2 separate regions of the Homo sapiens genome follow, and region 2 is linked to region 1. The links come from fine-mapping of genetic effects on gene expression. A gene starts in region 1. The other region holds a variant in brackets. All regions are shown on one strand. Distances are from middle to middle.

Region 1 (2,905 bases):
GTGGCTGAGGCAGAAGAATCCCTTGAACCCAGGAGGGAGGGGTTGCAGTGAGCTGAGATCGCACCACTGCACTGCAGCCTGGGTGATAGAATGAGACTCCATCTCAAAAAAAAAAGAACAGGGTCTTCGCAGATGTAATTAAGGATCTTGAGATGACATTATCCTGAAATTTATGGTGGACTTAATAAGAGAAAGGAGTGTCCTTTACAAGAAAAAGGAGCGGCCGGGCTCGGTGGCTCACGCCTGTAATCCCAGCACTTTGGGAGGCAGAGGAGGGAGGATTGCTTGACCCCAGGAGTTCGAGACCAGCCTGGACAACATAGGGAGACCCTGTCTCTACTACAAAAAAAAAAAAGAAAAAAAAAAGGAGAGATACATTTGAGACTCAGAGACACACAGAGAAGGCCAAGTGACGACAAAGGCAGAACGCGGAAGGCTGCATCTACAAGCCAAGAACTCCAAGGATTCCCAGCAGCCACCAGAACCCAGGAGAGAGGCATAGGACACACAGATTGTCCTCAGAGCCTCCAGAGGGAGCCAACTGTGCTGACAACCTCACTTCATTATTCTGATCTCTTGAATTGTGAGAAAATCACGTTCTGTTGTTTTAAACCTCGCAGTGTGTGGGCATTTGTTACAGCAGGCCCCAGAAAACTAATAGCATTCGCCTATTTACTTTGTTTACTGTCTGTCTCCCTGAGGGCCACGAATTTTGTGTTTTGTTCATTCTGTGAGCAGAAACAGGCACAGAGTAGGTAATAAGTACTTAATATGTGCCAGACGCTGTTTTAAGTGCTTTTACATGGTTTCATTCATTTCATCCTTACAGTAAGCAACGTTTTGGAGCAGACACTACTATTTACAGGGAGCAAACTGAGGCCCCGAGGGTCGTGGTCAGGATTCCAACCTATTAAATGATGTTCCCTGGATAATTACAGAATCAGAAAACTAGGAGTCGGAAGGGCAACATCAGGCACGGCCCAATCACCACGAAGCCTCGATTTCTCTCTCTCTACTGCAAACGAAAGGCATTAACTGGCTTTGCCCACAGCGTGGAGCCCAGGAGACCGACGAAGGTTTCACCTGCGCACGCATTTCCTCACAATGCACCCCGCGCCGGCGCGCGTTGCTCCGCCTCCTTTTGCATTACAAGCCGCGGCACTTTACGGCTCTCGTCCTCGTTCCTCCGGCGGGAACACGGCCCGCCCCGCCCTTTCGCCCAGCGGGCCCCGCCCTACTCCGCGTGGATTGGTTGACCGCCCTTCGAGCCCGGTGCTGACTGGCTTGCGTCTCTGCCACTTTCTTTCAGCTTAGTGGCGCGCGGCGCGGCGACGACCGCCGGGAGCGTGTGCAGCGGCGGCGGCGGAAGTGGCCGGCGAGCCCGGTCCCCGCCGGCACCATGGTGAGGGCAGGGCAACTGCGGGGTCTCACCGGGAGGCGGGAACAGCAGTCGTTGGGATCCCTGCGGGCGGGCGCTGTGGGCTTGGTTGGCGCGGGGCGAACGTAAGGTCCGAGCCTCGAGTCCCGCCCCCCGGCACGAGGCTGGGAAACTGAGGCCGGAGACTGCAGGTGGCTCTATCACGTTCGTGTCTGGGATTTAGGGTTGCACGGACTTGTATCCACAGTACAGTGGCCTCGCCTTAGTTAGTTTTCCCAGTTTGCAGGTGGGGAAACTGAAGTAAAAAAAAAAAAGGTGGGGATCCGCCAAATGCAGCAGAGAGTTTTTGGGCAGGGAAGGGGTCCCTTACGCTTCGGGCCCAGTCTGACCTCCCTGATTGAAAACTAGAGTGCTGGGAAGTAGGGGGCCAGTCTGAGTTGTGAAACTTAGTTTTAGGAATTTCAGAGCTTGCAAGATGCTAGCAGCACAGCCTCCTAGGCCTCTTGGTTTCTGGCTGAAAAGCAGGCCTGGTGCTGGGGTGTGGTGTTTCTCCTTGGGTCACATAGCATGTCATTCCAGCGGAAGGGGGCGTTTTGAGCTAGGGGTGGACAAAGTACATCCTCCCAATACAAAGAAGGAAAAATTGCGGCCCAGGTCTCTGCAGGGCCCATTGTTTATGATTCTGGAAGTTCTGGATCTGGGCTAGAAAGTGCCCGTGTCCCCCACTGTGCAGATCGGAAAAGGAATTCAGAGCTGGGAGTTTCCTGGCCCATCAGCTTCTGGTCCTTCTTTTTTCAATGAGAGAAACCAAGGCCCTTGTTGGGGATGTGACTTCCAGACTCTGTGAGACAGTGGGAGATTCAGTAACCAGGAGGGTCCCCCAGGGGTGGCTGCATCAGAACTGTGGATTAGTGAGAACTCTCCCTAAATCCGGCTGGTCAGTGTGTAACCACCCAATGGGTTCACCTTGCCTGTCTTCCTAGACAGATTTATCAAGACAGGGGAATTGCAGTGGAGAAAGAGTATTTCACACAGAGCCAGCTATGCAGGAGACCAGAGTTTTATTATTGCTCAAATCAGTCTCCGCTGAGCATTAGGGGATCCGAGTTTTGAAAGATAATTTGGCGGGTAGGGGCTCAGGAAGTGGGGAGTGCTGATTGGTTGGAGCTTCCTGAGGTCGATGGAGTCATCGACGGGAGTGTTGAAGTGAGGTTTTCTTGCTGTCTTCTGTTCCTGGGTGGGATCGCAGGACTGGTTGAGCCAGATTACTGGTCTGGGTAGTGTCAGCTGATCCGTCAAGTACGGGGTCTGCAAAATATCTCAAGCACTGATCTTAGATTTTATAATAGTGATGTTATCCCAAGGAGCAATTTGGGGAGTTTCAGACTCTTGCAGCCAGAGGCTGAAGTTACCTAAATGGTAATTTCTAATCTTGTAGCTTATTTGTTAGTCCTACAAAGGCAGACTGGTCCCCAGGCAAGAAGAGGGTCTTTTCGGGAAAGGGCTATTACCAATTTTGTTCCAGAG
Region 2 (2,905 bases), 22 kb after region 1:
CCATGTTGGCTAGGCTGGTCTCGAACTCCTGACCTCGGGCAATCCGCCCGCCTCGGCCTCCCAAAGTGCTGGGATTACAGGCGTAAGCCATCTCGCCCGGCCAAGCATCAGCCTCTTCTCAAGGAGACTTCGAGTGAGGGCGAGGATTCCCCGAGCTCCCACTCAGCCTTGCCGCTCAGCCCCGTGGGTTTCCAAAGCCACTTCCAACCCAGCACCTCCGAGGGTCCTCACAGATGGAGAAATGAAGGCTCAGGACAGGCACACAATCCAAGCAACAGCCGATAATTGTTTTTTATTTTTTTTACAGATAGGGGTCTCACCATGTTGTCCAGGCTGGTCTCAAACTCCTAGGCTCAAACGATCCTCCCACCTTAGCCTCCCAAAGTGCTGGGATTACAGGCCTGAGCCAGTATGCTCAGCCAACCATTGTTTATCTATCATGAATGTGTGCCAGGCAGCTCCGGAACTCACCCATAGGGTGGCATCGTCATTCACTGCTCAGGCACAGAGAGGGTGAGGAACCTGCCCCAGGTCACACAGCAATGGTGACCTCCTCTTTCCACTGCCTCCTTAAACCTGAAGGATCCATTGACCTTCTCCCAGCTCAGGCACAGTCAGGACCCCAAAATTGGTTGGGAATAGGGTGTGGGGGGTAAGCAAGATCGGCTGCTGCTTTAAAACTCACTCCCCTGATTGTAACATCAGCTGAGGGACAGGATTTGAGGCACATAGTTAGGTGCCTGGAGGGCTTAACCCTACCGTGCCTCAGTTTCCTCCCTGGTCGGGGGGATAACAGCAGCTCTACCTCATGGGGGTTATTGGGCAGATTGCATGAAGGGAGGATGCCAGTAATCATTTTAGGACTGGCCTGGTATACAGCAAGTGCTCAATAAATGCTTGAAATAATCTAAGATGGCATCTCGCCTAGCACCTGTGGGGTGTCCAGAACCTCACGGGGGACCCTCCATCTTTACAACTATGGGGTTGGCGTGAGCAGCTCATTGTCCCAGGGCACCCAGGCAGTGGCCCCTCTGGATTGGCCAGTGCCATGGGGAATAGAAAGGCCGCTGTCCTCTGTGCCCTGGAGGCTGGCTTAGGAAGCCTGGCCCCAGGCCAGTGACCGTTCACCTTGCAGGCCTGCGATCCTGCCCTTCGAGCCGCCTCCCAGCCTGGGCCTGGCCTCTGCGGCCACTGGGCAGTGAGTGACTCACCCCTGCCCCGCCTCCACTGGAACCAGGCACCGAAATAGTCACCCAGCTCGCTCTCGGGAGTGGCCGTGGAAATATTTCAGGGCTGCATTCAGCACCTAAAAATACTCCTCACGTCCTCAAGTGTCTTCCCCACCCTCATCTCCCCTCCTCTGCACCACCAGGGCCAGACCCTCCTTGCCCCACCCCTCCAGCATCAAGTAACTCAGACATCCTGGCCCCAGAGCCTTCTC[A/G]AAGGTCAGCTTCTTCTGAAACCCCCTGAAATCTCAGACCAGGTTGGGGAGGCCGGGGCTCAGTGACATTGTCTGGGGAGACCTTCACTGCCCAGCAGTTTTCCTTAAACATTAAAAAAATGGCTGGGGGTGGTGGCTCACACCTGTAATCCCAGCACTTTGGGAGGCTGAGGCGGGCGGATCACGAGGTCAGGAGTTCAAGACCAGCCTGGCTAACACGGTGAAACCCAGTCTCTACTAAAAATACAGAAATTAGGCGGGCATGGTGGTGAGCGCCAGTAATCCCATCTACTCGGGAGGCTGAGGCAGGAGAATTGCTTTAACCTGGGAGGTGGGGGTTGCAGTGAGCCGAGATCATGCCACTGCACTCCAGCCTGGGTGACAGAGCAAGACTGTCTTGGGAAAAAAAATTAAAAATTAAAAAAATGGGCCAGGTGCAGTGGCTTATGCCTGTAATCCCAGCACTTTGGGAGGCTGAGGTGGGTGGACCACCTGAAGTCAGGAGTTTGACACCAGCCTGGGAAACATGGTGAAACCCCGTCTCTACTAAAAAATATAAAAATTGGCCGGGCGTGGTGGCTCACACCTGTAATCCCAGCACTTTGGGAGGCCGAGGCGGGCGGATCATGAAGTCAAGAGATGGAGACCATCCTGGCTAACATGGTGAAACCCCGTCTCTACTAAAAATACAAAAATTAGCCAGGCCTGGTGGCACACACCTGTAGTCCCAGCTACTCGGGAGGCTGAGGCAGAAGAATTGCTTGAACCCGGGAGGCAGAGGTTGCAATGAGCCGAGGTCACACCACTGCACTCCAGCCTGGCAACAGAGTGAGACTCTGTCTCAAAAAAACCAAAACAAACAAACAAAAAAATTAACCGGGTGTGGTGGCAGGCACCTGTAATCCCAGCTACTCAGGAGGCTGAGGCACGAGAATTGCTTTAACCCGGGAGGCAGAGGTTGCAGTGAGCTGAGATCTCGCCACTGCACTCCAGCCTGGGTAAGAAGAGCAAAACTTCATCTCAAAAAAAAAAAAATTAATTAGATTTAAAAATGGTTCTTGGCCGGGCACAGTAGCTCAAGCCTGTAATCCCAATACTTTGGGACGCCAAGGCGGGCGGATGGCTGGAGCCCAGGATCCCAGTCTGGGCAACATAGTGAGACCCTACCTCTACAAAACAAATGAAATTAGCCAAGCACGGCGGTACACACCTGTAGTCCCAGCTGCTGAGGAGGCTGAAGGGGGAGGATCACTTGAGTAGGGAGGTTGAGGCTACAGTGAGCCATGATTGCGCCACTGCACTCCAGCCTGGGTGACAAAGCAAGACCCCCCCCCCACCAAAAAAAAAAAGTTCTTGCCGTTTGCATTGTTGAGGCAGCCAGAAGCAGGCCCTTTTGACAGAGCCCCCAGCTGGTCTGAATTCCACCTCCTCACCCTCCCACTGGCTTCGAGACCCCACTTAACT

What was found. PIP is the estimated chance that this variant, and not a neighbour inherited with it, causes the effect. A credible set is the group of variants that fine-mapping cannot tell apart.
Region 2: its variant is the best candidate, but not a certain one, in a credible set for the expression of LSM4 in whole blood (INTERVAL, PIP 0.87).

Annotation. Positions count from the first base shown.
Region 1 is chr19:18,321,515-18,324,419 of GRCh38, reverse strand. LSM4 (LSM4 homolog, U6 small nuclear RNA and mRNA degradation associated) reads left to right here and starts at 1,344. Exons shown (of 5, transcript NM_012321.5): 1 at 1,344-1,402. The coding sequence starts at 1,400. It overlaps LOC105372300 (a long non-coding RNA gene), which reads right to left. Exons shown (of 2, transcript XR_007067157.1): 2 at 2,423-2,686. RefSeq lists enhancers at 203-805, 1,004-1,223 and a silencer at 1,284-1,463.
Region 2 is chr19:18,299,529-18,302,433 of GRCh38, reverse strand. No RefSeq gene overlaps it. Among named protein-coding and RNA genes, the nearest start is that of MIR3188, 19 kb to the right of the region's middle. RefSeq lists a cis regulatory region at 965-1,384. The variant A/G (reference allele first, on the strand shown) is at 1,442.